Linked DNA regions of Homo sapiens: region 1 is linked to region 2. The links come from fine-mapping of genetic effects on gene expression. A gene starts in region 2. The other region holds a variant in brackets. All regions are shown on one strand. Distances are from middle to middle.

Evidence for each region.
Region 1: its variant is fine-mapped to the expression of FEM1C in whole blood (INTERVAL, PIP 0.97).

The regions. Positions count from the first base shown.
Region 1 is chr5:115,450,147-115,466,899 of GRCh38, reverse strand. No RefSeq gene overlaps it. Among named protein-coding and RNA genes, the nearest start is that of FEM1C, 86 kb to the left of the region's middle. RefSeq lists an enhancer at 5,399-6,598. The variant T/C (reference allele first, on the strand shown) is at 8,940.
Region 2 is chr5:115,540,766-115,557,195 of GRCh38, reverse strand. FEM1C (fem-1 homolog C) reads left to right here and starts at 12,421. Exons shown (of 3, transcript NM_020177.3): 1 at 12,421-12,673; 2 at 13,513-14,246. The coding sequence starts at 13,703. RefSeq lists silencers at 12,131-12,470, 12,571-12,620, 12,671-12,840 and enhancers at 12,270-12,564, 12,106-12,872.

The DNA of each region.
Region 1 (16,753 bases), 90 kb after region 2:
TATTTACCATTTTTCTTGCTTTCCTTTTTTTCCCTCAGCTTTACCTTTCACCAATGATCATTTTCCTTATGTCTGAACTACATGCTCTAGAATATCTTTTAGTGCAGATCTACAGAAGACACCCTGTTTTTACTTGTCAAATAGAGTCATCATATTGCTTTAAATTTTGAGGTATATTTTTGATGAGTGTAGAATTCTAAGTAGGCAGTTATTTTCTATTACTGTGTTGAAGACATTCCCTCGTGCTGTTTTTTTTTTTTTTTTAACTTTTAGATTCACGGGTACATGTGCAGGTTTGTTGCATGGGTATATTGCATGATGCTGAGGTTTGGGTATTAATGATCCCATCACTCACATAGCGGGTATAGTACCCAACAGTTTTTCAACCCCTGTGCCCCTCCCCCATCTAGTAGTCCCCAGTGTCTATTCTTGACATTTTTATGTCCATGAGTTTAGCTCCCAGTTCTAAGTGAGAACACGCAGTATTTGGTTTTCTGTTCTTGTGTTAAATCACTTAGGATAGTGGCCTCCAGCTGTATCCATGTTGCTGCAAAGGACATGATTGCATTCTTTTCTATGGCTGTGTAGTATTGCATGGTATGTATATACTACATTTTCCTTGTCCAATCCACTGTTGATGGGAACCTAGGTTGATTCTGTGTCTTCATTTTTGTGAATAGTGCTGCAATGAACATACAAGTGCAGGTATCTTTTTGTTAGAAGAATCTTTTTTTTAAATAAAAGAAATAGGATTGCTGAGTTTAATGGTAATTCTGTTTTTAGTTCTTTGAGAAATCTCCAAACTGCTTTCCAAAGGGGCTGAAGTAATTTACATTCCTACTAACAGTGTATAAGTGTTCCCTTATCTCTGCAGCCTTGCCAGCGTCTATTGTTTTTTGACTTTTTAGTAATAGCCATTCTGACTGGTGGGAGATGGTACCTCTTTGTGCTTTTGATTTGCATTTTTCTGATTATTAGTGATGTTAAGCATATTTTCATATGTTTGTTGGCCACTTGTATGTCTTTTTAGTAGTGTCTGTTCATGTCCTTTGCTCATTTTTTAACGGAGTTGTCTTTGCTTGCTGATTTAAGTTTCTTTTAGATTCTGGATATTAGATCTTTTTTGTCCGATGCATAGTTTGTGAATATTTTCTCCCATTCTGTAGGTCTTCTTTTCACTCTGTTGGTAGTTTCTTTTGCTGTGCAGAGGGTGTTTGGTTTAATTAGGTCCAATTTGTCAATCTTTGTTTCTGTTGCAATTACTTTTGAGGATTAGTCATGAATTCCTCCCCAAGGCCAGTGTCCAGAATGGTATTTCCTAGGTTTTCTTCTAGGATTCTTACAGTTTGAGGTCTTACCTTTCAGTCTTTGTTTTTTGATACTGAGAAGTTAGTTGCCACTCTGTCACAACTTTGAAAGTGTTCTTTTTCTCTAGCTTATGATTTTCCCTTTCTCTTTGCTTTTCTTGCAAACCAAGGTATGGGTTTCTTTATATTTATCATATTAGGGATTTATTGAACTCCTGAATTTTTTGAATTGGTGTCATTCATCAGTTTTAAAAAACTCTTGGTAATTTTTTTTTTCATTTACTGTCTGTACCCCATTACTCTCCTTATGGTCTATTTGGAGACCTATGTCTCCAAGACATAACATACATATGTTAAAATTTTCATTCTATGTTAAGTGTTGATAAACTGTGGCTTTGGAGGTAGTCACCTGTTTTTGTAAATAAAGTTTTGAATATAGTCATGATTATTCAGTTGCTTGTTGTCTATGGCTTTTTTTGAACTATAGTGGCAGAATTGACTAGTTACCACAGAGACAGTATGGCCTGCATGATCTGAAATATTGACTCTCTGGCCATGCAAACAAATATTTGGCAATCAATACTCATCCTTTCGTTTTTTTCTGGATACTTTCTTCTAATTTATATTCCAGTTCCCTAATCTAATATTTGGCTATATCTGTTCTACCTGTATATCTGGTAAACCTGTAGAATTCTTAACTATAGTTACTGTATTTTTTAGTTCTAGAATTTCTACTCAGTCCTTTTTCAAATAAAAGCAACTTTTTAAAGTTTCCACTTCCCAATTGAAATGTTCAAGATTTTCTTTTTCAGTCTGAAGACAGAAAACATGATTTTGGTGGCTGTGCCCAATACTTTCACTATCTGAAATCTTTGTGGGCTTGTTTCTGTTGTCTTTTTTTACTCCCTGGTTATGTCTCATACAGACCTTATGCTTAACATTGTATTTGAAATCTTATTCGTAGAAATAATTTGGGCATAGATTGAAAACATCTACCTCCACAGAAAATTTTAATTTGCTTCTGACACTCTAGACTACCTTAATTGAAATTTCAGGCTTGAGATTCCCTGGATCATCCATATGAGAACAGTGTTGATTTCAATTTATTCTTTCTCTAACAGCAGCGATTCTCAAACTTGTTTGTACATTTGAGTCACCTGGGAAACTTTAAAATGTACTGATGCTTGTTTCCTACAGTCAGAGATTGTGATTTGAATGGTCTCTGGTGTTACCTGGGCTTTGGAATTTTTAAAAGCTCTCCAGTGATTCTAATGTGCCCACAAGTTTGGGAAGCTCTGCCCTAAGAGTAAAGCCCTTCAGGACCTTCATTTAATGTGTGGGTATTTATCAGACTTTCCACTTGGCAGGTCCTTTTATCTATTTTGTTCAGTGAGGCTGCCAAATACCACAGCTCCATACTGCAGCTGTTTCTTCCTAATCAGGGCCAGTGCATCTGTGAGTACTTGCTTTTTCCTTCTTATATTCTCCCAAGTTTTTGGCATGGTAATCCCTCACTAGTTTGCTTTTTAAGGATTTTAAGAAAAAAAGTATGTATGTATATATTCATCCTCTACGTTACTCAATATACATATATAGCTGTTTTAGTCAACCTCATCAGGAGGATTGGTCTAGACTGCCATTAAGATAACTGAAAGTCCTCCAGTTGCTTTTAAAAAAAAGAAATAGGGGTAGTGTTTTTGCATTCCTACTCTTCTGAAAATGTCTTTATTTTATCAACTCTCTGGAGTTATAGTCTGGCTGAGATTCAAAGTCTAGGTTGAAACTTAATTTTCCTTCACATATTTGAAGGCACTATCTTATTGATCTCTTCTAACATTTATTGTAAGTGTTGTATAATCCTATTCCTTCCTCATGCTTATTTTCTTGTAAGTGACTTTTCCCCTCTCTTTGGGGACACAATTATCTCATAATGTTTCTCACATAATTTGGGGGTAACACATAATCTCACAATTACATAGTTTGGCATAGGGTGGGCCTTAATTAATTTATTTTTCTGTTCATAAAAGCAATGTGTTCAATCTGGAGATTTTTTTTTTACTCCTGGGAAATTTTATTGTCACTTTACTTTTTTTCTCTCTCTCTTTTTATTTTTATTTATTTATTTATTTTTTTGAGACAAGATCTCACTCTGTTACCCAGGCTGGAGTGCAGTGGTGTGATGATGATCTTTTTTTTTTTTTTAAAGGTAAATAAGTTATTTATTATTTCTTTCTTTTTTTATTTTATTATTATTATACTTTAAGTTTTAGGGTACGTGTGCACAATGTGGGTGATTGAACATGGAGTTCATAAATGCAAATCGGTCAATCAATAAAGCTGGAAACTTTTTCTTTAGGATAATTTAATTTGTCAAAAGATAATCTGATAACCATCATTCTACTCGCTACCTCCAAGACATCAACTTTTTTCAGTTTCACATATAAGTGAGAATATACAATATTTGTCTTTCTTTGCCGAGCTTATTTCACTTAACATAACATCCCCTAGTTCCATCCACATTTCTTCAAAAGACAGGATTTCGTTTTTTATGGCTGAAAATGTATTTATATACAATAGCATTCCATTGTATATACAGACCTCATTTTCTTTATCCATTTATTTGTTGATGGACACAGGTTGATTCCTTATCTTGGCTATTGTGAATAGTGCCACAATAAACATGGGGGTACAGATATTTCTTCAATATTCTGATTTCCTTTCTTTTGGATATATTCCCAATCGTGGGATTGCTGGATCATATGGTAGTTCCATTTTAAGATTTTTGAGGAACCTTTATATTGTTTCCATAATAGTTGTACTAATTTACATTCTCATCAGCAGTGTATAAGCATTCCCCTTTCTTCACATCCTCACCAACATTTAGTTTTTGTCTTTTTGATAACAGCCATTCTAACTGGGGTGGGATGATATCTCATTGTGGTTTTGACTTGCATTTCCCTAACAATTAGTGACGTTGAGCATTTTTTCACATACCTGTTAGCCATTTGTATATCTTCTTTAGAGAAGTGAGGCGGAGAAGAGTAGTAGGGAGGGAGAAATGAAGAGAAGTTGGTTAAGTTTGCAGACTTCCATGTCCCTCCCCTCTGTTGCCCCTATCTCTGTAGCCCCAAGTCAAAGCCTTTCCCATTCAAATTACACACAAAAAAACTCTTTCATCACCAGCCTGGGAAACTAGTGGCCTGACTGTGCAAGGTGAGAGAAGAACATGACTGCTTCACAAACGAACTTTCAACTTCTATTTTTAGCTCCTTACCTCACCCCAACCCTTCATTGTACCTGCTGTCTCCAAATCTTGAGCATCTCAGGTTTTCCATTGGGATGAATGAGCTAATTCATTTGTGGTAACTTGTCTTCAGGTGACTTAAATCCTTGCTTCCTCTGTCTTACTAAACCACTTACCTCCATCTGGTCCTATCTTTCAAACTTGTGTGGAATTCTCTTGTCTGCTTGTTTTCTTTATTCTCTTTGTCTTTTATGGGTTTCTACATTCTTTTAGACTCTAGTTAGCCATTCAAACTCCATGATTCATCAGTTCCTCATCCATACATGAAAATAATGCTGGCTTTGCCTATCTGACTCAGAGACTTTTTGTGTGTGGATATAGTTTGATAATATACATGAAAGTGATTGTGGGAAAGCCTAGAGGTCTTTATCATTATTTTCCTTATGATGTCTTTGTCCTCATTAATCTGATTTTCTAAATAAATGCTGAATTCAAATTATGCTCTCATTTCTCACCAGAATGAGCAGTGTCTGTTTCTTCTTGGTTGTGGAAATTGTATCCCTCTTCCTTTTCATCTGCTACCATCTCTTTTCTGTTGAGGTTTTCAGGGTGTGCATGAATCACCACTGCTCCAAATGACTGTGTGATATTCTCTGCCCCACCCTTGAAGCACTCATCACTGGCTGGGTGGATTCTCACTGAGCTATCATGGGTGGTGACACCTACCATCTTTGAGCTTCCCAAGGAGTATCCCAGCTGCTAAACTGGGACTGATCAACAAGGGGAGGCTGATTCTCCATTGCTGGAGTTCTGATTTCTACCCAATGGGTGCTTTGTTGTGAAAGAGATTTCACTAACTAGTCAGGCCAAACCACCTATTTTAAATCAAGATAATGATCGTTAACACTTCCAGATTCTAAGAATGTTACATGTTTTAACTTATTTCATCTGCACAACACCCTGTAATATCCTATGTCACGGGGAACAAAACTGAGACCCAGGTTGATTAACAAACTTGCTCAGTTTCACAATGCTCGTCAGTAGCAGAGCTGGAATTTAATCCCAGACAATCTCTCCCCAGAGTCTAGGCTCTAAACCACAATTTTATCCTGTCTCTTAAATCGGCTTTGTTTAACTAGCTAAGAGTGAAGAAAATCTTCCAGAATTTAAAGTGCATAGTAGGGTGCTGGCCTTCCTTGATTCTTTGATAATGTAAATAAAAGTCAACACTGGGGTTCTACCTCTAAGGTTCTACCTTGTTTGTACCCAATACTCCAACCAATTGGACACTGATTTCTTAGGTGCTTGAGTAATAGGCTGATGGCAGGTTGAACCATATGAAATTGTCAATATTTGGCCATTTTTGACCTATATAAATGGCAATGTCATATGAATCAATTCAATATTTGTTGAGCCCCTACCTACTTTGGTGGAAGACATGGTTCCAGGCATTTTTCTTACGTTACTTAACCTTTACAACAATATTTCCAAGTATTTTTACCTCAATTTTTCACATGAGGAAATAGGCTGAAACTAACTAGCTGGAGATCACTCAGCAATTGAAGTGGTAAAGCCAGGGATCCTGTTCCAAGGTGGATTCCTTTCCACTGCACAGCTCTGCTGGCTGAGCCCCAGGAGCTGAGTGGAGCTGGAGGTTCTGCAGGCAAAAAGGAAGGTCACATTCGAGTGGCACACTCAAGTTATATCAGTTTTGAAGTTGAGCATGAGTCAAAAGGAGGAAATCAAATGACCTCTGGTAAACAGATATGAGTCAATCAGCAGCAAAAGTCAGCTTTGGGAAAGTGAATCAGACCTATTCCATTTTATTCAGTATTGTCACGACTGTGGGTGTACTTGCTACAGCTTTAAAGAAAATTTGGGGATTGAAGGGTGATTTGCCTAATTGGAGAATACTGTCATGGGAAGCCCAGCCAGGAGAGCCCAGATGGGGGTGGGGAGGCGGGGCATCTAAAACAGCTGGGGACTATTGGGATTCAAAATTGGAACAAATACAACTATGGAACTTAGGGAGTTTGAGGAAGAGATAGGATGGGAAGGTCTTTGGTAGTACAACCAGAAAAGAATGATAATTTGGGGCTCTCCAGAATCTCCAGTGCTAATTGAGCCAGATGGGGCTTGGCAACCCAGGTTAGCCACGTGGAAGCATTTTGGAATGACTACAGGCTGTAAGTTACAGATGCTGGGTTGGGAAGACAGGGAGTGTTAAATGGGCACAAACACACTGAGATATGTTCCAGTTAAGTGGAATATTATTCAGGGGTAGATGCAAAAATAGTTGAAGTGGTTCATAGACATTCATTTTAATTCTATGACTTTCCTCTGTGGGAAACTACTTTCATCTGGTTCTTTTCAATATGAAGTGAGTCATATTCTTTTTATTTGCCACAAGCATTTATTTGCCATAAGTGTCTTAAAGCATTTGACAATTGCTGCCTTATTTTCAAGAAATTGATTGAAACACCCTTGCTGAGCTGCTCAGAATTTGAGATTAATTCTCAACCACTGGCACAAAAGTAGCAAGAGAAGATAAGAGTGAATGTGGTCATTGATCAACAGATGTTTGTTTTAACTCTTTTCTGGAAAACCTGCCAAATACTGGGGAGTGTAAAGGCATCCAGACTGCCTTCTCTGAGCTTATACTCTAATTGGGAGAAATATGACATATACACAGAGCAGAAGACATTGACTTACAAATGCCAAATGTGCAGTGAATAAACAAAGTTACGGGAAGCAAGGAGGCCGACATTGGCAGTGGGGCTAAACAAGGCCCATGATTCCTGGAGAGGGTAGATTTGAGCTGATCCTTAAAGAATGAGCATTCAGGGATACTAGGAAAAGGGAGGAAGGCATTGCAGGCAATGAGAATGGCACAAGAAAGAAGTCCAGGGGTGAGAGAACCCCTATTTGCTCAGAACCCAAGAGGACCGGGTTGGACAGAGTGGAGAAATTGTTGGTGAAGTAGTATGAGTGCCCCCACTTCTTTTCTCTACATGATTTCCTGAGTGATCTCATTCCGTCTTTCTCATTTAAATAATGTCTATATGCTGATGATTCCTGGATTTATAATTCCAGCACAGACTGTTCTTCTGTATTCATGACAGAACTCTTGATTTTTGCCCTCCCAGCTCATCCCTGTCTTCCCACTTCCCATGTCTTTCTCCTGTTGGTAAATGGCATCATGATTTACTCAGGTGATCAAGCCCAAGCCCTGGGAATCATGCTTGACTTCTTTCATTTACTAGCCCATCTCTGATCCATCAACAAGTGACATCAGCTCTTCCACAAGAGTATCTCAAATATGTTCATGTTTTTCTGATTTCTACAAATACCACCCTGGTTCAAGGCACCAAGCTCTCCTGCCTGTCATTCTATCATAGCCCCTGATTTCAATCCTTCCAAGCTTAGCTCCCTGAAGTACTTTCTGTAACCTGCAGTAAGAATTTTGTTTTTGAAATGTCATCAGAACATATGTCAGTGGATCACTCTTCTGTTTAAAATGCTTTGATCGCTTCCCAGTGCTCATAGTATAAAATCCCAACTCCTCACCATGATCTACATCACCCTGCTTTGTGGACACCTCCCATGCCTGGCCAGCATCCATGCAACTTCTTCTACTAGCAGATTCTCCATTTTTCTTTAGGGGAACTACCCCTCCCTGATTCTTCCTGCAAGTGGTCTGTGTGGGCTGATTCCACCCCATGTCCTGTTTCAGCAGCCAGCAAGTAACTCCAGCATGGACAATTAGCATATTCTTTCCCCATGTTACAGTGGTTGTCTGAGAGATGAACACATCTCCTAAGTTGATTGGATAAAACTCAAGCCTAGATCTTTTACTAGAACACTGGTGCTTCTGGTGAGGGCCTAAAGAATATTACAATCATGGTGGAGCGAAGGGGAGCCAGAATGTCACACGGTGAGAGACAAAGCAAGAGAGAGAGGAGGAGTGGCATGCTACTCTAAACAACCAGCTCTCACATGAAATCACAGACTAAGAACTCACTCAATGCGGCAAGGACAGCACTAAGCCATTCATGAGGGATCCGCCCCCATGACCCAAACACCTCCCACTAGGCTCCCCCTTCAGCAGTGGGGATCACATTTCAGCATGAGATTTGGAGAGAACCACGTCCAAACCATATCACCTGGGAACTGCTGGCTGTAAAATTATGCATACTTGGAGTTAATAGGGAACCATCTGTGGGAGGAGGCTTCCTGAGTGCGAAGCCAACTCAGAACAAAGGAGACTGGGAATGGAGAAAGACCAAGTTTTGTGGACTCTGAGTCCAGCACAATCCTTCTTCCCATGCAGTGCCTCTACTTTTCAGTTACATGAGTCAAAATGTTCTCATTTTAGTTCTACTGTATGC[T/C]TATGCCTATACCTATCTATGTCTATTTATCTTTTGAAGAGATGGGAAGATCTCTTTCCAAGGAGCCTCCCCGGGAGTCTGCCCGTGTGTCTCGTTGGCCAGCATTGGTTCCTATGTCCATGCCAAACCAATTCCCAGAGGCTTAGGCCAATCCCTAAAGTGCATGGATCCTTGGGAGAGTAGGCAAAATTTGAGTTCTGTTAGAAAGCAGGTGGCAGGTGACTCATTGCTGGTTGTAATTTAACAGGGTCTGCGACGTAAGGTTATCTTCTTTTCTTGGAGTTTTCCAGGCGCTATAAATGTGAAAGAGGCCTGACACCATGAATGGGGGAAGCAGTTGGTTGTATATCTAAACAGGATTGGTGGTTTCCAAACTGACCCCTGATGGTCTGCATGATTTTGGTGGAATCCCCTCTGCTTTCTTGATTTTAGTTTCAATCTCTGTATTAGGAATTCAGAGATTTAGCCACAATGTGTATACAGTGTATACAGCACAGACCATCTCAGAAAATAGATTTTAAAAAGGACCTTCCCTTCTGTGTTATTGCCTTATAGAAACTCATAAAACATTTTTGAAGCCACAGGGTTTTATCATTTTGCTGCAGCTTTTTTTTAAATTTACCCATTCCTGCCCCGTTCCCAGTGCCACCTCTTTTCCCTGTTCTGGTTATTTATAATTTAAAGAGAATATGCTCTGCCTCTCAAACACTGTCTATTGGAAACCACTGACACAGAAAAGGAGAATCAAAATCAGTCTCCTTAGGCTGCCTCTGAAGGATTTCACGCAGCTGTAATTGAATTAGTGCCTTTTCTGAATGGTCTGGGGCCAGGATCAATAAAGCTCCACAAAAGTTTAGACTCCTAAGGGGAACTGTGGGGAAACTGCAGGAAGAATTCCAGGGAGGGCAAATCCTTGAGGGCTGCAGAGCCCAGAGCAATGCAGCCAGCATGCGCCAGATGTTATGAAAGTATGTATGCTTGTAATGTAAATTAATAGCCATCAAAAATAACTGCAACATCCTGGGGCACCCACTGCCACCACCAAACCTAGGGCTCAGGGTAGACACCCCAGTTTCCCTCCCGGAAGAACAGGCTTGATTTAGAAGGGGTCCCCTGGAGGGTGGAGCTGAAGGTGAGGAGTTAGGCGAACAGATGAGGCAACTTGGCCCCTGGAGACACCCAGACCTTTGTTCCTAGGAAGTGGATCCTCCTTTTTTGCCGTCTCCTGTTGATCCTCTGTGACTCGGCTCAGGCTCTGCCTTCCTCTTAGAGCCTGCCCTGACACCTGTCCACAGTTCTGATAGTTCTGTGCTCCCACGGCACTCTGCCCTTGACCAAAGAAGCTCTTCCACGGGCTGAAATTGCAGGGCCATTTGTTTTTCTTCCCCACTAACCTTGTTTCTTGAGGATTTACCAATCACTTCATCAAACGCTAGCTGTGTAGCCTCAGACAGATTTATTAGATTTTCTGAGCCTGTTTCCTCATCTGTAAAATGGGGATAATGACAAACCTTTCTTCAAATGGTTGTTGTGAGAATTAAATAAGATAGTGTGTAGCCCAGAAGCTGGGGTATAGTACTCTGTAAATATTGTTTTGGGGTTATTACATCATCATTATTATTATCTTTATATTTGATTCCTCATCAGTGAGTCAGGGTACATGTTGCGTGATCAGTATATGTTGTTGAGGGAAAATGAATGTGGGATCGCTTGAGCAGAGAAAGAACATATAAACAGGTAATGATAATGAAGATCATTATTATAGTAAGCCAACAATGCAGGGAGACGTGACAGGGTGGCAAGTGTGTGTAATTAACTCTCTAGAGGGAGGGACCTACAAGAGTTCATTGATTGCAAAAGAATGAAATATCCCTGTGAGATGAAGCAGTCAGGCGAGACTTCACCAGGGCCAGTAGAGCCTGCGATGTCTGTAAGGATAGATGGGACCTGAATACACAGAGAGGAAAGGGGAGGAATTTCAGATAGAGGTCCCCTATACTCAGACCTGACATCTTGGAAAATGTGAGCATTGGGGATGTTCCCTTCAGGAGCTGATATTTAATTTGACTTTAGGATCTGTGGCTTAACCCTAAAGGGCCCAGCCCAATCCCAGAGTCTGTTTTATTCTTGTTGGAGAGTGGGTGGCGGTGGCAGTACCAAGCCCACACATCTGCAGAAACATTTTCTTTGTAAACCAGCTCTCTGTGACAATCATTGCATGTGTTTTGGGGTAGGGGCCAGCTGACTCAGGAATTAATCAAACCTTTTATGCCCATTCTCATCAGCTTTCAAAGAGTCTTTACACAGAACACTCCTAAATGAGCAGTGAATGAATATTCATAGACATATTTTCCTTACCACCAATCCGGAAGGACACCACTCTCAGAGCCATTTTGCTGTTTCTTGGTAGAGTGGACTGACTTTGGCCTTTGTGCTTATTGCAGAGAAGAGGGAAGTGAGTCAGCCCATAACACTGAAGAAACAGAATGTCCTTCTCCCATCTGTGATAAACTTGTCAAAGGCCAAGAAGCACGGAGGAGTCAGAGGGTTTCCAATCAGAGCCCTTGTCTGCAATGGGTAGAACAGGTTGACGTGTGCATTCACCACAGACGACCCAGATTACCCTCCATGAACCAACGGACTCGGTTTCTCATGACCTACTTTTCATTCATTTGCCTTGCCAGACCCACAGTTCTTGGCATTCTGATTGGACACTGCCTTTCAGGAATAATAACTCCTACATTTAAAGAGCAGTTTCCAGTTTGTGGGGGCTTCTGTCCACATTATCTGATTTCTTCAATGATCCCGAAAGAAAGGAAGGGCAAGAATCATTTAACCATTGCACAAGTGAGGCATCTGAAGCTGAGAGGTGAGTTCAGTCACAGAAAGGCAGATGTGAACTTAGAACACACAAATCCCAACTCCCAGGCCAGGGCTCTGCTGCATGGCCCCTTTGCCCTCCTGCTATAACCAGGATTTGAATTATTGACACTGCAAGTATCATATGCTCAAAAACTCAAATAATGTTTGAGTCCTTCATCAAAGGAGTAAGGCAGTTGTTCAACTTCTGCTCTGAAAGAGGTCTCCCAAAGGGCAATCCCATTGCAGAACACTTTCTAAGGCCCACAGGAACTCAAGTGGATTTCGCTTCTCTGAAACTCATTCCAGTGTTCTTCTGAGTGCCACGCAGTGCAACACAAACCGTCTCCTGTCTTTCACCTCTCTTTCACGTGGAGTCTTGAGGGCTGCCCTGGCACAAGGAACTGTTTCCTCTCCAACATTTCACTTGACAAACAGGCACTTTCCTACAATACTTGTGAGGGGTCAAACAGGCCAGGTCTATGGAGGACAGTTGTGTTATATTCCTTAAAATTACAAATGCATTGACAGTTGCATTCCAAACAATCTCACTTCTGGGGATTTACCTACATACATACCTATATATGTATAATAAGATGTATGTACAAGGTTTTCAGCTGCAGCTCTGTTTTGTAATAATAAAGATTAAATTCAATCTAAGGGTTCATCTGTAGGAAACCAGTTAAATAAATTATAGCAGAACCACATAAACACTATGCAGCTACAAAAATGAGTGAGGAAGTTTTCAGTAAATTAATACAAATTGCCAGGATATATTATTAAGTGGAAAAGCAAAATGCAAAACTTTGTATATAATTTGCTACATTTTGTGTAAGGGATGGGAAAGAGTACGTATTTGCCTGTGTTTGCATAAAGGAACACTGGAAGGATATTCAGGGAACTCATAAAATGGTTACTTTTGAGAAGTAGAGACTGGGATAGATGAGCTAGTGGTGAGGGAGAGGGACCTAGACTTTTTAAAGGGCACTTCTGACATCATTTTGAGTTTTGAAGCATGTTAATGAATTATCTATTCATGTTATTAAATTAAATCTAATCCACTTGCCCCTAGGAGCCAGCCAAGGTGTGCTGACCTCTTGCCATTGAATTTCTACCTTGGAGGCTTCCTAGAGGTATTTGAATGGAATCTATATTGTTAAGTCTTGGGCCATTGCTCAGGCATCTCATGAAGTCACTGGAAGATACTATCACCTAAAAAGACCCAGTCAGGTGAGAATGTGTCACCTCAAGTGGAGATACAGAAAAAGTGAGGAGGTGTCCTGAGGCTGGGCAGGGTGGAAGGATTGCTTGGAGGATTGAAAGGCTTTCCAAAGTTGTTTGAATGACTTTGGGATTTTGTGGAAATTAAGGCCTCCCCTTTTGGAGCTCAGGTGAATTACCAGGTTATCTTCCTACTGTGTTCTAGGCCTCAAGCCAGTCCTGTGGCACTGAGATAGGCCAATCTAAGAATCAGTAGATATTCTAATGCTAGCTCAGCTGCAGGTACGACCTCACCTGGAATGAGGCCTGGCTTGAATTGGCTTCTAAGAGTAAGGTCTCAGCACCGATTGCTCCACCCCATTATGTGGGATATGCTGGAGACCTTAAACCACCCCAAGGACAGAGAGGTTTCCCACTCAGCAACAACCAAGTGCCTGACTGCTCTGGCTCTACTCAGAGGAAATTAAGCAGTTTAATTGCACCAGCTCCCCTCTCTCCTAACAGCCTCTGCCCTTCCCAAATATGCCCTTCTTTCCTTGTTATTGGTATATTCATTTCAAGAACACTTGCATGCTCGATTTTACTAGACAACATAAAAATGAGCCCTGCCTCTACCAGCAGAGCTGGCAGTAAACCGTGGTCATCATCAATGATTCTCCTTCCCCACTTCCACTTCACTGCAGGGTGGGGACAGGTGTTGGAGTAACTTTGTCATTTTTACAATTTTCCTAGAGCAGTGAGAATAAGATATAAAGGAGCAATTTTTTCCTGCCAAGCAAAGACACACTTGCATTCCACAGCTCAAAACACCTCCAAGTTGGCTGCATTTATGTGGAATTTTGAACCATGCCTCAGCATACCCTAAGCTCCCCTGAGCATTCAGTAAGGGCTCAGGAACTCAGTGAGGTGTACAGGAAACTCTGGACTCTTCCTACAAGCATAATAGAAGCATACAGAGAGTACGGCTTTGCTGAGAAAAGTGGCTCAACTTGGCTAATTTGCTTCACTGTTCATTTGCCTCCACCATGAGTAACAGAAAGGAAAATTTTAACTGGTTTCTTCTATTTTCTCTTCACTTAGATGAAAGAAGTATTTGTTTTGTTTCATTTCACTTGTAGGAAAAAGGCCTAGATAGGTCAAAGGAAGATAAGAAACTTAATAGAGCTCTGAGTTGAAAGTCTAGGCTCAGATTCAGGCCCTGCCCACTGATGGTCTGTGATTGATTTCATCAGTCTGTGGGCCTTGATACCCTACCTGTGGAATGGGTGTAACAGATCTCTTTTGTTACGTCTTGAAGGATGTTATGAGAAGAAATGAGCTGGATCTTCACAACTGTTTTCCTTTCCTACCCACTACTAAGAGAACCTGTGGAGAAATACCTGTAATCCATGTCTTTAAGGAGCTCACTGTTTACAACAGAAAAGAGACAGAGCACATGTATACTGACAAAAATAATACTGAGATAAGCATACACTAAACCATCAACAAGAATCAAGTCGTGTGGTAGGACTGTGAGTACCTGTATCAAGGAGCCCAGGAGTGGAGCCATTGGAGTGAGTGGTGCCTGGAAGGTGCGGGCAGGACTCAGAGCCAGGTGTTAAAGGTCTAGGGATCACATTCACCTGCAGGGCAGATAAGAGCATGTGAAGTGGTCAATGCAAGCCAGTGAGCTGATGAGGGCCATAGTGAAGGTTTTCAGGGTAAAGAAAAAAAGATCAAACTTTGCTAGATGAACAAAACCCCCCTGCAGGCAGACCCCAGCCCTTGGCTGCAATTTGTGACCTCTGGGCTAATAGGTCTGTACAGACACAGAGAGGTGGGGAAAGGGAAATAGCAGGGGTCACGACTTTTGGGGCTTCCAGTAGATGTGCAGGATTCAGTGCCCTTGCGGGGAGAGGGTCTGAGTGCTGAGCGACCCCTACTCAGGTTAGCACTTAGCTAATCTGGCTCTGAAGCAAGGGGCCCCTGCTGAGAAGCACTGTCAGTCCTGCTGAGGCCTGGAACTCTATATGCTCATGTTATTCTTTAATGTTGTTATTATTTTCACCAGATACTGCATGTAGGAGCAGAGCCTTTGTCTAGGTCTGTGGGAGCCCACCCACACCCCGTTGCCAGAACTGCTCACCTTGCCTGCCACAGCCCTCGGACTGGCCCACCTGAGTCTGTGCCCAGAGCCCTCCGTCCCACCCACCAGAACAATGGGAGTGGCTGGGTGTGGGCTGCTGTTGTGCACATGGGAGGCTGGGACACTTGATGAATTAAATCATTAACCTTCAGCTTCTCCAACACCTGCTCAGCTGCACAGCTAGAGCTCCTCGTCATCACACACACACACACACACACACACACACACACACCCCTATGAAGCTGCATTTGGTAAATTTCTAGTCACAAATCAGTCAAAGAAGACAGTTTAAACAAGGAAGGCCCCTGCTTGTTTAGAGTTGTGGCACCTCTCAAGGTGATAGCCTCCTGCCCCTTAGTTGTATTACAAACAATCTAGGAAACACACTCCTGACACATCTAATAGTGTTTCTCAAAAGTTTGAGAACGATAGCATAGTCACATCAGAACCAATGTGCAATTGTAATGTATTTTTTTTTTAATTTTCTCAGAAAAGATCGACTGTGGGGAATGAATAAGATTACAATAAAACCTGAGGAATTTAATGCCACATTAATTGAACACACATTTTCACTTGAAGCATTGCCTCATTTCACGTCTCATCCTAGCTCGGCCCCACCCAGCAATTACATTTCATATTCATCATTAGTATTTCTGCTATGATAATGGGTATCAAGGGGAGTTCAGTTGATTCACAGATGGTACGATTTTGCTCAGTTCTGGAGGCTGAGTCTATAGTAAATGGGATAGCCACATAGAAAGTGTGGATTCCATTAATCATCTGGAAGCTTCCCAGAAGTTGCTGCATATCTGCTTTACAAACAAAATTCAGAGGCCTTCTGGAACTTTCACATTGTATTTAAAAACCCTTTCAGAACTGGTAGCACTGAATTCTTGCTTAACTTGGGAAATTCCCTCTATTTCCCCATGGCCCTGGACCTCTGGGCCATGTAAAAGTTGCTGATGTTTGTTCTGGGGAGACACTCTGGCTTGAGATGGGCTGACAATAGTTGCTCTTAAAGCTTAGGCTCTAATTTGTTCTTTAAGGAGGTTGAGGATGAAAGCCTGTTTTTGTTTAGGGTCTTGGCTTACTTTCATTTTAAACAGAGGGGAAGAAAGGCAGGAGGAACTGGAATGAGGTCACAGGCAGTAATTGGTCTAGGAAATGGCTCCACAGGACCCCTGCGAAATGGGCCTTCATTTATCAGCCTGGGAAATAGAGGTCATTGAGAAATCTGAAATATTTTTTAGCATGGTGCTGGAGGAAGAACCTGACTGGTGGGTGGGGTACAATCAGGGATTCCAAACTCTGCCTACAGGGACCAGGCTGGTAACTTAAATAGGGTGGGAAAAACTTGTGGCTACCTGGAGAGTCTTGGCTGTGTCCCAAAAAGGCACGTATGTCAGCCCCAGCCAATTGTTGTCCAGGGTCATTCAGTGGGTCTAGTGTTGCTAACTGTAATTGTTTTTCAAGAGAAGCTGGAAATCCAGATTTTTGTATGTAATCTTTCAACCTAATAAAGATTGAGAAATTAATTTAAATATTTAAAACCTTAGGAGGATCATTAAAATATATTTGCAATCAGTATATGGCCCCATGGCCACCAGTT
Region 2 (16,430 bases):
AAAAACACTTTGCATTCATCACTAGTCTGGATACTCCATGATTACAGAGTTCTGTGGACTGCATGGTCTGGTTCCTACCTGCCTCTAGCTTGGGGGGTCCACATCTCCCTCTTATTCACAATACTCCACACGTGTTGGCTTTCTATTTGCTTTCACAGTGCACTGAGTTTTTTCTCACTTCAAGACATGTCCTTAGGAAACAGTGTTTACTTCTACCTGGACTCCTCCTCCTTGCTCTACTCACTTCCTAATTAACTGCTCCTCCTCTGGCTTTCACATCAAGTAACACTTTCTCAAAGCAGCCCATGTTGACCCCTTAGAATAGGTCATGGCTTCTGTTGCACACCCTTAAAAGCATATGTGTTTCTTCTTCCTAGTGCTGACCTCACTTTGTATATGTTATGTTTGTTTACTATTTGTCAGAAATCTTTTGATAGCAATGAATGAAATCCAACTCAAATTGGCCTAAACAAAAAACAAAAAGCGTTGGAAGACGGATGTGTTTGTTCATATATCCGAGAGGCTAGGACAGGGTTAGCATGTTGCCTAACTCCAGGGAGCACTGTTCAGTGATTCTGGAGGCAAGCAACACAGTGGCACTGGCCAGGGGATATTTGACCTCTGACATGGCGGGATCTAGGGGTTCAGACCATGCCATGGTTCCATCTCTCCTTCAGTTATGTTGATTTTGGCATGGACATCCTCATGGAGCCTATCATAGCGGGCAGGGTTCAGAGGATGGGATTTCCCAGATGAAGTGTTTACTCAAAGAAACTGGAAACAGCAAAACAAAAGGGGTAAGTGCAAACCATAATCAACATGAGCCATCCACAAATGATCCAGTGGAATCTGGTCACATATCAGATCTGAAGGGCAAATAAGTCTACAAATGGGCAGTGAATCTAGGGATTAGGTGTCCAGCAGTCAGGAATGGGAGAAGAAAGCAGGTTGGAAGCAAGTTAGAGGAAACTGCTCAGGATAGAAAACAAGACCAAGGTGGTGGGGCCCATTCTTGCTGGTGTTTCTCCAGTGATGGGGATGTGGTCCTGCAAGCTATAAGCTGCAGGCCAGGTCCCAAATAGATGGGAGTCCTTCAGGGAGACAACTATACACAGCAGCTCAGCCCCAGGACCTAGGGACTGAGGGGGTATGGAGAATGGCAAATTGGAGACAGTAGACCCATTACTGAGGAAATATACTGGGGAGGCAACGTAGTACCTACATTCTGGCCCAGACTGTCTAAAGTCAGACAAATTCCACCCTGCCATTTACTAGCCATGTGAATTTGTTTAAGTTACTCAACTTCTCTAACCCTTGGTTTCTCCATCTGTATAGAAGTACTTACAATGTCTGTTATAAAAATTAACGTAGCAATGCTAAACCTTTTTTGCACAGCCTCTTTCACACAGAAACACTAAATAAATGCTCACTGCTATTATTAGCAGCAAACTATAATACTAATTAGCAACAAAGGAAACTAAGAAACAATTTGGAAACCCATGGTCAGCACAAGAGCTGTCATTGCTAGCTCTGAATTGCCATGCCCCTTTCTTCTTTAGGTCTTTGCACAAGGTATTCCACATTCAGATCTCAGCTCATACATTCCTTCCTCGAGGTTGGGGGTCCTGCTGTTCTAGAGGTGCTGGCCTGATGAGTGCGCTAAAGACATTTGAACCTGTCTCCCTGTATCTAGTTTGGCCTGGAAACTAGGGGAAAGGCTGAATCTTCCTATTCAAAGTCCAGCTTGTGCCTGAACAGAGGTGGACTGAGTCTCCACATCCACTCATTCATTTTCACTATGCAAATATTCACTGAGGACAACCTGTGTGCCACACACTCTGCTGAATTATGGTGACTCAGAATTGAACATCCAAACATGGCCCCTGCCCTCCTGGGCCTTCCAGTTGTATAAAGGAAATAGATAAAGCATCACAAGGATCCTAAGAGAGGAAGTAAAGGGCACAATGGCAGCTATGGGGAGTGGAGGAAGTAGGCAGGGCAATATGTGGCATCCAGTTATAACAAGGGAGCTACAGAGGCTGGGAAATTGGCAGGGCCCACCCCCACCCTGAGTCCACGTGTACACATTTTTCTTTGAAACGGGCCAACAGAAACCTTGCATGTATATCCTAGCAGTTTTCCTCTACAAACAGTTTAAAAATACATATTTCTTACAGTAGCTAGGAATGTAAAATAAGGTATAGGACCTGGAAAACAATGGGTTCTTAAAAATAATGTCAATATTGGTGGTTGTTTAGCATCATTATCATCACTGTCAGTGTCCTGCTGATGATAGGTACAAGGTTGAGTGTGAGATTGCTGTCAGCCTGTGGAAGATGTAAAAAGCACAGTTTTCACCATTTTGCCTCCCAAGACATAAATAGAGATGAACAGGTTGTAGACAGAGCAAAGGATCAACTGGGGAGACTGTAGCTCTCAGCCTAATATTCTCAGATGAAGGTAAGGGTCACATAATTTTTCACCGAAGCAAGGCCTTTGACTTCTCCCCTAAATCCTTCAAACCTTATAAGCTACTCCAAGAACAACAATAACAATGATAACAAAACAAAACCAACTTAAGAGCCAACAACAGCTTGGGTGAATCCACACTTCCATTAATCTAGTCCTCCAGAAAAGGTTTCTGGAAATTACATTGCTCTTTCTCCTCTCTCTAGCCACAGAACTAGGGTACTGCTCAAAACATTTTCTTTTCCAACACAACTGACATTTTCTTTTCTTTTCTTTTCTTCCTTTTTTTTTTTTTTTTTTAAACAGGGTCTGGCTGTATCACACAGGCTGGACTGCAGTGGTGTGGTCACGGGCCACTGCAACCTCCACCTCCCAGGCTCCCACCTCAGCCTCTCAAGTTGCTGGGACTACAGGTGCACACCACCACGCCCAGCTAATTTTGTATTTTTTGTAGAGACGGGGTCTCGTCATGTTGTCCAAGCTGGTCTTGAACTCCTGAGCTCAAGGAATCTGCCCACCTTGGCCTCTCATTCAGGGCATAGCAACTTTATGTTACCCCAGGAACCATGAGTGGGGCCTGTATGCGATTGTAACTGAGGGACCCAAGCTGGTGATTTTATCAAAACAAACAACTGTAGGCATTATTGTTTATTCTTAAGTTGGATAAAGTAGAGCCCTAATAGGCAGGACTCTTCTGGGCAGGGAAAATAAGGGATTCTAGCCCCAGAACCTACTGAATAGACGCACTGAATTAGAATTTAGGAGTGTTCTGTTTTTTGTTTTGTTGTTTTTGTTTTTAAGGTGGAGGTGGAACATGAGCAAATTACTTCTTTTACTCAGTGATCCAGAAGGCATACCGTGAGATCCAGGTAGAGATCCAGGTAAGGGACACTGTGAGATTCTGGGGTCCCTTTGCCTGAGGAGTGAGGGACTTAGCTGGACAGTTTTCCACATCATGTCCAGCTTGTTCTCAGGACAACCAGATGCTGACTTTGACTTGGCGCCCTCCAGGTTAGCAGAAGCTGGGCCCAGCCTTGCCCCCTGTGCCCAGGTTTGGGTTCCACCTGAAGGAAGTTTTATGGCCATAGCATCAAGTTCAAATTATTTCACATGACTTCCTAAGATTCTCCCCAGTCTGCCTCCTTCAAAACTCTCCATTTTTCACTGATCCCCTGTTGTGGGTTATTTTAAAGCCATGTGAGATTTCTTTTAGTTCTTCAGCAGCCAACCTTTCTCTTCTTATCTAGAATTAATGCTTGTAAGCATTTCTCTCTGCCTGCAACTTTCACCTGCGAAAACACCTACCTATTCTTCAGGCATTTGCTCAATCATTACTGCCTCTAGAAAGCCTTCCTCTCCACCACACCCCAGCCCAGAGGAGGTTCTTTGGATTTTCTAGGAGGGCATAGATGACACAATCTTGCTCATGCATGCTGTATTTCCAGGCTCACTCAGCACTGCGCAATGCACACAGTCAGCAATAAATACGTGTTGAAAGAATAAGCGACTGACTGAATGAATAGATGAAAGAAATATGCCTGCCCTCCACAAATGGCTAATCAGAGGGTTACTTTCAATAAGGACTTGGAAGGTGAGGGCTGTTTTAGGTATCCTTGGACTGGGTGCCTCTGACTAAGGAATTGAAGCTTGTCTGAAGCACATGGGAAAACACTTACTTATTAGTTAAAATAAATAACAGTAAACTGACTTAGCCAAAATAAAATAAATCATGGAAAACTGATTGACTGTACTGAGCTTAAAGAGGATAAACATACAGCAGTACTCAGTGTCAAGGACACATCTGCCAGCCTGCTTCTGAGGATCTGATCTATGCTTCTCATGGGGAGAACCTTAGGTAGCACAGACCTACCACTAATGAAAGTCTTCAGATGGGTCCTCAGGCATGCTCCACAATAGCACTGAACTCACAGAACATACACTAAGGGGCTTATCCCCTCTGACTAGCAGTTGTAACTCAAGATTTGATTGTATGTATGGCCACATGTGGCAGGAAGAGAGGCCAAGACTTGGCATGAGACCTACCCACTACAATGGGACAGGCTTTGAAGAACTAACCTAGGTGCAGAGAATAATGCCAGTGGAAGAGCCAAATGGGAGTCATTATTAAGAGATACAGTAGCCCCAGTTACAATCCAGGCAACAACTGGCCAGGGGGTTTCCAATCATAAGTATTGGGAGTTTGAAGATGGGTTCATGGCTGGCTCCAACAAGAAAGAGTCAAAGTGAAGGTCCCTACCGTCATGACTGAGTTCAGGGCTGGGATATGGACAAGACATATTGGAACTGCCAATTGGCAGCAGGAGAAAGAAGCCAAAAACAGGTGGGATTGGGGCTGGGGAAAGTGACCTTTCTTTCTGAGGCACTGGCCTCTTCAGAGAATGGCAGCAGTGGAACACCCTGTGCCTGTGTAGGAAGGACCTAAAGATGGAGTGGGAGGCACAGAGTCAGTGGACACAGTCACTAGACGCCCAGAAAGTCAGGGGGATAGGAAATGAGGTGGAGCTGATCCTCACAGAATTCCACACTAGAACATAGTAAATTCCACTGGGAGGATGAATGGCATGAGGTTCCTAGACCAGAGAGCACTTGGGGGGGTGTTGAAGCAGCTCTGGAGTTTGGAGTAATCACCTTGGGAGAGAGAGAGAATCATCCATAGTGATTTGTTCCTATTCAAATAGGGGGAAGAGGGCCTTCGAGCTAAGCATCTGAGGAGGTGGCTGGGAGCTCTTGTGTGGGGATGGTGTTGGTGTGTGTGTGAGAAGGCAGCTTTGATATAGTTGGGAACTGGTGCCAGGATGTGAAGACACCTAGAGAGTGAGGCTGTAAAATCAAAGTTTGTTTTGTGAGTTCTGAAAGAGGAAAGCACCAGAAGATCATTCGAGTGTCTAGTCCTGGTCAACAGGGGCATTGCAGTGGAGTCTGAGGCACTCTCCCCAGGCCTGGGAGAGGAGGTGGGAGTGCCCTTGACCCAGGTATGGGAGACGATAGGGAGTCCTTGTTCTGTGTGGAGACTTAGATAGACTACTGGGTTAGTAGAGATCTGACTCATCCCTCTCTAATAAAGCGTGGATCCAGTGACTTTGGGTGGGGTCGCATGTGTTGAAAACTGAGAAGAACCTGGCCCCATCTGACATCAGTCTGGGTGGTGATGGGGAACTCAGGACCAGAGTTCGTCACTTAGGGTGTGGCTAGAGAGCTAGAGTTAGGGCCCTGACAACTTCAGGAAATAAGACAACAAAGGAAATAAATGGATACTTTTATAATGACATAAGATTTCTAGCTTGTAATAATGTGATAAGTGAAATGATAACCCCATACTATAGAGGGAGACTGGGCCAAGAGAAAATTAACAGAATTTGGTGACTGAGTTGCTGCCTCCTTATCTTGCTTCATTCAGAGAAGTAAAGATAAGACCAAACTACCCAAAGGGAACCTGGAAATCTCCCTGCTAAAAGAATTCTTGCGTGCATATTTCTACAATTTTAAAATTAATTTGGGTTCACAAGTTTCCTTTTTAAAATGCTAGTACCCCAAGGAAGTATTCTTGCTTTAAGTAAATAACCTTAAGTGGGGTCTCACTCCTCCTAAAACCTGCAAGAGAGAAGCTGCATGAAGAAAATATGAAAGCTGGTTGAGCTGTAGGAATAGGAAATGGTGTGTTAATATTAGGATACACTTTGAGTGAGGGGAGTAGGGATTTTTGGTCGTTCAGAGGGTAGCTTAGGGCACCACTCTCTCCCTGGCACGGGGGAAGCAGGAAGAAAGAAGGGAACATCTCACGTGTTCTCTCAGCTCCAGCATTCTGGATGGTGCCCCCTCCCACCCCCCTCCTGCTGACTTTTGGCTAGGCTTCCTCCTACTAATCCTTTAAAATTCCATTTAACCTTCACCTCCTTCCCAGATTTGCTCAAGCAGAGTTAGCAGCTCTGTTCTTTGGGCTCTCACTGTTGTTTATACACATATTTTGTTTTCATCTGTTTATAGCTACATTTCTCCTACAGACCATCAATTCCTCAAAAGTAGAGATTATGTCATATTCATCCAGTATCTAACATAGTACATAATAGGATTCCATAACTTTGTTTTATTGGGGTTTTTTTTGTTGTTGTTTTGTTTTGTTTTTAGACAGGGTCTGGCTCTGTCACTCAGGCTGGAGTGCAGTGGCGCAATCTCAGCTCACTGCAACCTCCGCTTCCCAGACTCAAGCCATCCTCTCACCTCACCCTCCTGAGTAGCTGGGACTACAGGTGTGCATCACCATGCCTGCCTAATTTTTGTATTTTTTGTAGAAATGGAGTTTTGCTATGTTGCCCAGACTGGTCTTGAACTCCTGAGCTCAAGCAGTCTGACAGCCTAGACCTCCCAAAGTGCTGGGATTCCAGGATTCAATAATTTTTAAGGTGGTGAATGAATTTATGACAATTAAAATATCTCACCTTGAGCAAATTATCAGTGTTAATAAAGCGGACTTATATGAGAAAGACATTTCTAAATAGCACAAGAAGCGTACACCTTGCTATGCTATTTTTGTGTAACTTTTAAATTCATGAAAGTAGATTCTTTTCATACTTTTCTAAATAGAACTATGCCCAGTTAGTTACCAAAAACTAGAGATTTAAAAAAAATTCATCCTGGCCATTTCTCAAATTAGAACAAGTTACCAAAGTATACCAAAACCGTGCAAGCAAACTGTTTCACTGAGGTTTCTGGTTTAAATATAGACTGGCAGGAATTAAATGTTTGACAATCCCCAGAAGGAATACTATAGAAGGAATGTTCTACTAATTCAAGGATATTGCACAGACCAAAAAAATCCCAAGGGTAGCCAGGTAAATTTGGGAAACTTGGCGGTATCATTTAACACATACAAAACCAGTAAGAATTTTCAAAAAATATAATATCAAGTGGGTTCAATGTTTGGTGAAGTCAATAGTGCCTTGCTGGTGGTGACAGATTGGTCTAAGTCTTCTAGGAAATAGTATAACAATGTATATGAAAAGCCAAAAAGACATTCTGTAATCCAACTCTTGGAAATTTATCCCAAGGCAATATGTGAGAAGAAGAAAACAACTTATAGGCCTGAAAATGTTCATTGTTCTATAATTAGGGTGTCCCCTTTTTGCTGATCCAATTCCTCCTCCCCATCAGCCTTTCAGGTAAGGGGTAATGTCTCCTCTGGGCTTACATTATAAAGCCTTGGGCCTAGGGAAATGCTCTGGATGCAAGTAACACTTTGCTCCCCCGTCGGGGAAGCCTGAATATTCACCTTGGCTCCCGGAAGTGGTTCCCCTTTTTGTCTGTCATCTCTGGGTACTTACCTGAATGGGTAATTCAGAGGCTGTCTCTGGTCCCTTTCCCCTTTTCCAGTCTTTGGCTCCCCCTACAGACCCCTTAAAAATGAGTCTTCCTGTTATGCCCCAGTAGCATTCTGTGGCTTTCAGGAAGACAGTAATTGCTGATTTAACCAGACATCAAAGTCTTAATAACCAAACCAATCCAAAGCAAACCAACCAAACCAAACAAAAAAGTTGTCCCTCCCATTGATGGAAGGTAGAAAAGAGGTGGGCATTTAGAAACACAATGTAAAATCTATATAAAAGGAAATTTAGTTGATTTTCTATTTAAGAAAAAAAAAATCAAAGATTGGAAGAACAAATGTTCTTTAGAAATGGAAATGACTTCCAATAGGGGGTTGTGAATAAGTCTCCAAACATTTCAATTAAGTCTTCAAACATTTTTACTCATGCACATGAGATGCTATCTACCCTCCTACATATTTTTCAATTGTCACCTAAAATTTTTCATCATAAGTTTAAGTATTCGCAAAGGTTGCAATTTTCCGCAAAATGTAAAAATTAACATTTTTAAATAAAACATGCTTTTAAATGAATCCAACGAAATCTAAATATCATAGCAGTTATGCTTACTATGAACCATTTAAAAAAATATATGAACAAATTATTATTTACCTATAGGATATTTTTACATAATTTATTTTCTCTTCGCATTTATAATTCCATTCCACATCCCATTCCTCAGGAATATATCCTAATTAATGTACTTTTATGTTTGAATATGTTTTTTGTTTTTGTTTTTGAGACAGTATCTCGCTCTGTTACCTAGGCTAGACTGCAGTGGTGCAATCACAGCTCACTGAAGCCTCAACCTCCCAGGCTCAAGTGATCCTCCCACCTCAGCCTCTGGAGTAGCTGGGACTGCAAGCATGTACTTCCATGCTTGGCTAATTTTTAAGTTTTTTGTAGAGACAGGGTCTCACTCTGTTGCCCAGCCTGGTCTTGAACTTCTGGGCTCAAGCAATCCTCCTGCCTGGGCCTCCCAAAATGCTGGGATTACAGGCGTGAGCCACTATGCCTAGCTGAATGTGTTTTATGAATCACTCTATTATATTTCTCTGCAATGAAAATACATATAAAAGCCAGGCACAGTGGCTCATGCCTGTTATCCCAGCATTTTGGGAGACCAAGGTGGGTGGATCACCTGAGGTCAGGAGTTCAAGACCAGCCTGGCCAACATGGCGAAACCCCGTCTCTACTAAAAAATACAAAAATTAACTGGGCGTGGTGGCAGGCACCTGTAATCCCAGCTACTCAGGAGGCTGAGGCAGGGATAATTGCTTGAACCTGGGAGGCAGAGGTTGCAGTGAGCCGTGATCGTGCCATTGCACTCTAGCCTGGGTGACAACAGGGAAAACTCTGTCACAAAAAAAAAATATACATATATATATATATATATATATATATATATATACACACACACACACACACATATAAAGAAATACATATAAGTTGAAATTTAAGTTTCTTATAACTAAAGACCCTAGGTGCTCATTTTCTTCCAGATTGAGGCATCATTGTATTTATTAGTAATTTTCAAGTATTCAAAACAATACAAAATATAAATTTTTTGATTATTAAATGTGATGTTTTACAATTAAGTGCACACATTTATTGTTAAATACTACTTCTTACTAGAATGAGACAAAGTTCAGATTCAATGTTTTCTCAATTTTTCATTTTTATAAATTCTGAGAAAATGTTTTCACATTAATAAGTAGATGGAGGCTGGGTGTAGTGGCACACACGTGTAGTCCCAGCACTTTGGGAGGGGGAGGCAGGTGGATTGCTTGAGCTCAGGAGTTCAACACTTGCCTGGGCAACATGGTGAAATGCTGTCTTTACAAAAAAAAAAAAAAAAAATTGCCAGGTGTAGTAGTGCATGCCTATTGTCCCAGCTACTTGGGAGGCTGAGATGGGAGGATCACTTGAGCCCAGGAGGTCGAGGCTACAGTGAGCTGAGATTGTGCCACTGTACTCCAGCCTGGGCAACAGAGAAAGACCCTGTCTAAAAAAAAAAAAAATAGTAGTTGGGTCTATAAGGAGTTTTGTCATTATATCAATGTCACTTAATTCTTTGAACTCCTTCTAATCGATATCAGTGATCTTTAGGTCATACTTTTTTCAAAGCAATTATTTGGAAATCATCTGACTTGCAAAAGAATTTGTTACCCAGTCATTAGAAGTATACACTTTCTAATATAGATCAGTGTTTTAAATTTATAAAGAATTGGCAAAGATTGCTGAGCCTTTTATAACCCAGAGCAATGCCTGTAAGATTCTCAAATGTCTTTCCTTTTACAAATTGGGAAACATACAGCTATTGTGAAAGAGTTGGGAAATGAGACACCTTGACCATATTCCTTTACCAGCAGATCAATTTTAGGAAAGAACGTAGGTGTAAATTGAAGATTCAGAAACTGGTAGCCTTTTTTTTTTTTTTTTTTTGACAGAGTTTCCTTCTGTGGCCCAGGCTGCAGCACAGTGGTGTGATCATGGCTCACTATAGCCTTGATCTCCCCAGCTCAGCTCAGGTGATCCTGCCACCTCAGCCTCCTGCATGCCATGCCTGACTAATTTTTTGTGTGTGTGTGCGTGTGCGTGCATGTGTGTGTGCGTGTGTGTGGAGTTGGGATTTCACCATGTTGTCCAGGCTGGTCTCGACCTCTTGGGTTCAAGCAATCTGCCTGTCTCAGCCTCCGAAAGTTCTGGGATTACAGGTGTGAGCCACAGCAGAAATTGGTAGCCTTTAAACTAAGTGTCCGTCTATCCCTTAACAATCCCATGAGGGATACAGAGCTCAGTTTGAAGATGGCTGATGTGAATGTTTACATCTTATTGAATTAGGTGAGAGAGACAGGTCAGCTCAGGTTAGGCCTTGGTTGGGACACTGTACACTGTTATCTGTACCCTGGGAGAGTATAGAACTGTGACATATGCTGGGGATAAAACAGCCAGTCCTCTTGGCTGGTTAATTTTTATGGATGGTCAATCTTATCCTTTATACTCTATTCTTTTATATTTTCTTCTCAGTGGCAATTACCTTAACTTCAGTTTTGGGAATCTGATGTTGAGTGTAGTCTGATACTGACTACCTAAGGGAAATACTATGCTATACTTAAAAATTATTAAGACTGTAAAAACATAAGAAACGTTTAGAGTATAGAAAGGAAAAGCAAAATATATAGTTGTATGAAAATTATTTCAATTATGCAAAACTACATAAACTTCTGAACAACACTACAATATACAAAAATGAAGTTGTGATTTTTTATAAATGTTTTTAGTGCTGCATGACTTCTAACATAACGTTATGGATTACATATGCTGAGGGTCAGACTGCCTACTGTAATATTCTATTTCTCCTAGTGGTACTAAGGAATTATGTGAGCTTAAGTTCCCTCAAACAAAGTGATTGAAGGTCCATTTTCAAAAATTCTGTTTTCTCATCAGGATTCATTATGGGCGTTATTTCCCAAACACATTTAAACTTTTTCATCCTAGTTTAATGCAACGTAGGTTTTAGCATCAAATTCCAGAGGTTTATCAACTACTATATGAAGAAGTAATTCTTTTCATTCATATATATAACCTTTTAAGCTTTAGTTCCCGATTTATTACTCAGAGCTCAAGAACCTGACCTCATTGACTTTACATTGCTCTTAGGGTTTACCATTCCTCGTAGCCTTTATGCTTTTTAGAGGCTACTTTAGAAAGAGAGTCAGTTTGACAGCCTCCAAAACTAATCACATTTTCTGAAATTTCAGTTTCCTCCGTGTGTGTTCTGAGGTGTAATTACGAGCTTGGTAATTTCCAGGGCCCACCAAAGTAAGGACGGAAGACTAGTCCGAGAGACTTCACGTGTGTGAGGGTAATACTGGTCCGCACCCAAATTTGAATTTTAGCTCCCATGATTCCCACATATTGTGGGAGGGACCTAGTGGGAGATAATTGAATCAAGAAGGCTGTTTCCCCCATGCTGCTCTGGTGGTAGTGAGTACGTCTCAGGAGAGCTGATTGTTTTATATGGGGTTTCCCTTTTTCCTTGGCTCTGATTTTCCTCTCTTGCCTGCTGCCATGTAAGACGTGCCTTTCCCCTTCTGGCTTGATTGTGAGGCCTCCCCAGCCACGTGGAACTCTGAGTGCATTAAATCTTTTTATCTTTATAAATTACCCAATCTCGGGTATGTCTTTATCAGCAGCGTGAAAACGCACTAATACACTTCCCTTCTGGGGTCTCTGAGATGGGACCGAAAGATTCCCTAAGGGAGCACCCCGAAAATCCGAGAGGAGAAGAGCCAGCGAGATCTCAGAACTCGAGCTGCCTCGGGCCGCTTCGATGGGCACAGATCCGCCCCCTCGCAGCGCCCCGCCCCCCAGCGCGTTGCACGCAGGCACGTCCTCCCAGTAGTTCAGGCCCCGCCCCCTCCCCGTCGCCCCACCCCGGCCGCGACGCCCCGCCCCGCGCCTAGGCTGTTGCTGGCCGCGGCCGCCGCCCTCCCCCGGCCCAATGGCGTGGCGGCACAGTCAGTGATGTGACGCTCAGGCTTGTCCGGCCCCCGGCTCGCAGCCCATTACACCATCCGTCGCAGCAGTCGCTGCAGCCGCTGCAGTCCGAGCCGACTAAGGGCGGGAGGCAGCTCGGGTGGCGGGGCGTGGCGAACAGCGCGGCCGGATTCATTCCTTTGGGGCGCGGAGCATGGAGGAGCTGTGCGGCCGCAGGCGGAGCAGGGCGGCCCGGGCGGCGGTGGGGACAACGGTTTCCCTTTGAAGGGGACGGACAAAGCCCGAGTGACCAGCGGCGGCGGGGAGGACTAGTCCCCGGGCAGGTAGTGGCGGCGGCAGCGGCCTGCCAGGGCTCGGGCCGGGGCCTGAGGTGCCCGCGGAAGGCCTGGGCGGGAAGGAGGGCGCCGGGGGAGCCGAAGGCGGGCAGCGGGCTGGAGGCCACAGCTTGGCCCATCGGGAGGGGGTTGTGGTCGATGGAGGAGATTGGGAGGGGGCTGCCGTTGTCTGGAACAGGGAGAGGGGAAGGTTGTGTTGGGGCGACTGTGGTTTGAGGAACCTGCGGATCATCCCTTGGCGGGGGGTGGGGGGTGATCGAAATGGGGCGGGCGAAGTTAATGACTAAAAGGCAGGCGGATTTCCTGAGAGCCGTGAGTAGTTTTAAAGGAAAGAGAATCTTTCGGGGCACAGTTTTGGCCTTAGCCGGGGTTTGGTGTGTCCGACCTTTTTGTTCTTTCTCGAAACCCGGCCTCAGGCCTTCCAGCCTGGCGCCCTTGGCCAGCTCTCCTGCAGTTGCAAGAAAGAGAAACATTTCTGAACCCGAGTCTCCTGCCTCTTTCGGTTGTACTCTCCCTGGGCGTGTGCAAAGCAAAACTAGAACAAAGCTTGGCTGGTTAGAGCTGGAGGCGAGAAAACGGGCTGCCTGTAGTGTTTAAATTTTCCGCACATGGAGGAGACTGCCTGCGACCAGAACATTTGGGTCTCTGTGTATCCTTCTGTATTTTTCTTTACCACCTTTTCTTTGGGGGTGGGGGGGGTGTGTGGGATGGAGTAGTGCCTGAAGTATAGCTTTTATTCCTTTCTTCCCACAGAAGTGGAAATTAAGAAGTGTTTTGCCTTCTTCTATAGAAAATTAAATGCTGCTACTTTTTTTTTCTTTCTCTAGTTTGGTGCCCTGGTTGTCAGATGTTGGAAAGCAGTAGGACGGAACATACTCTTCGTGGTTGTGTATCCGTTCTGGGGTGCAGCAATTAACATTGGACTTTGGTTCCTGTGACTCTTGCCTGTGTCGATAGAGTTAAACTGGAGCTCTGCTTTGAAAGATAAATAAAGCACAGCCTCTCAACTGGACATAAATGGATCTAAAGACAGCAGTATTTAACGCAGCTCGGGATGGCAAACTCCGGCTTCTCACCAAATTGTTGGCAAGCAAATCCAAAGAGGAGGTTTCCTCCTTGATCTCTGAAAAAACAAATGGGGCCACGCCACTCTTGATGGCCGCCAGGTATGGGCACCTTGACATGGTGGAATTCCTCCTAGAGCAATGCAGTGCCTCCATAGAAGTTGGGGGCTCCGTCAATTTTGATGGCGAAACCATTGAGGGGGCTCCCCCTTTATGGGCCGCTTCTGCAGCAGGACATCTGAAGGTGGTCCAGTCCTTGTTAAATCATGGAGCATCTGTCAACAACACGACTTTAACCAATTCAACTCCTCTTCGAGCTGCGTGTTTCGATGGCCATTTGGAAATAGTGAAGTACCTTGTAGAACACAAAGCTGATTTGGAAGTGTCAAACCGACATGGGCATACGTGCTTGATGATTTCATGTTACAAAGGACATAAAGAGATTGCTCAGTATTTACTTGAAAAGGGGGCAGATGTTAATAGAAAAAGTGTCAAAGGTGAGTTCAGCTTCTTTGTTTTTCTAAATGTCTACCACTTATTTTCAGGAAGTTTGATACATCATTATAAGCACTGGTGTTGAGTAAACCAGCATTGACAGACCTGTTTTGATTAGGTAAGTCTTCCAGTATGACTTTGTTGAGTGTTTCTATGATGTTTGGTAATAGATTGAAAAAGTGTGATAAAAGACTTCTGTTACTCTGTTAAGCAGTATTTTCTCTCTTATTTGGAGTAACTTAAAATTCTTGGGAAATGGGTTCCCCAGAGTTACAGAGCATGTTAGTGGTAGCTGATCTGAGCCTTTAGGCTTATGCTTAATCTACTTGGGAATATGGTTAAATGTAATACATTTTTCTTAGCTTTTTGTTTTGTTTTTTTTTTTTTTAGAACAACCTTGGAGTAGAAATTACTATATTTATTGAGTCATGGTCTTGTTTGTTCTAGGCAGTCATTTCACTTTTTCTGTCAGAGAAGGCTAGGCTAAACTGACCTGGAAGGATTAATATCAGTGGAAAGGAGCAAATCTGTTCCCTTATTCTATATTTGTTTGTGGTCAATAGATAATCCTTTTATAAGAACATGCATTAAATATAGCAAGAGAGAAAACACATTTTTAAAACTGCTTCAATACTGAGAGTGAAGAACAAGGACTAGATTAAACAGATGTGGATTTGTTGGCTAGCAACAGTGTAAACACCTTTGTCCAGAAGAAGGGCTCCGGTTTTTGATTGTGTATAATTTTTGTTGATTGTAATAAACTAAAAGCAGCAAAAAGTAGTTTAGAATTTTTTTAACCCTTAAAAGCAACTGCCTTGATAGCATAATTTTGATACTTGAAAACCTTAACTTCCCTTACACGAATCTATTTATACGACAGCAAAATAATTCACTACCTAATTTTTAAAAGCCATTAAAATTTAAAAGTAGCATATAGACATGTTAAAAAAAATCAAACAGTGTAAATTGGTTTACATTGTTGGTTTACATTTGAATAAAAAGTCTTATTCCTGATTTCTAGATCTCTAATGCGCTGACAACCACTATTTACAGTTTTTTATGTGTCCTTTTAGAGTTGGTCTATGCAAATACAAGCATACTTGTCTATGTACAAGCATGCTTGTTTGTGTAGCCCTCCGTCTAGTGGTTGATTACATACTTTTTTATCTTTATTTATTTTTCTAACCTTGGATGTCATTCAACTCCAACACACATAGCTACCTCATTCTGTTTTGTGGCTATACAGTATTTCATTGTATGAATGTACATAATTTATCTAGTCTCTATTGGTTGATATTTAGGTCACATCCAGTACTTTGCTAATATAAACAATGCTGCTGTGAACATTCTTGAACAAAAATGTGTCTTTTCACGCTTGTGTGAGAATAACTGTAGTATAAATACCTGTGTTCAGAATTGCTAAATCAAAGTGAATGTACATTTGCAGTTGTGATAGTGTCTGCCTTTCAGAAAGGTTAAACCACACAATTATGGGGCACTATATAGTTACTGAGCATATTTGCTGTAGATTGTGTGATCTTTTATAAAAATGATACAAGTGTGATCTTTTATAAAAATGATACAAGATCATTGTGATTTTTCTGAATTTTTTTTTCCAGAGGAAGTGTAAAAATCCCACAAAATCCCAGTACTCAGGGATAATACTTCCAAAGATATTTCTGAATTTTGCATACTGATATATGTATGCAGTTTTATATGCTGTTCTATAACCTGTTTTTTAGCTTAATAAATGTTATCTTTAATATTACCAATTATAGCTCTTTAATTTCAATAGCTGCATACTCTTCTACTGATGGAGTTTTATGTTGCTTCCAGTTTTTCAGTATGATAAAAAATGTTTCTGTAAACATTCTTTCTAATAAGTGTTTTCATTTGTTCCTGATTATCTTTAGAGGTGGCTTGGTAGATCAAATGACAGCATGGCTTTTCTTTTTTCTCCAAACAATTATCATTCTTTTGAAGAATGCTTGTTTTAAGACAACAAATTACTGCTGAACTAACCATGTTAATATTGGGAATGGTTTGAAATCATGGCTGCTTGTTTAGGTTTGTTGAATTTTTTGTTTCTTTGTTTTGGGCTTTTTATTCATCAGCTTGATGTAGATATTATTGATAAACTCATATTTAAGTCAAATTGGGATATGTTTTAAAAGCCTATGTTATTG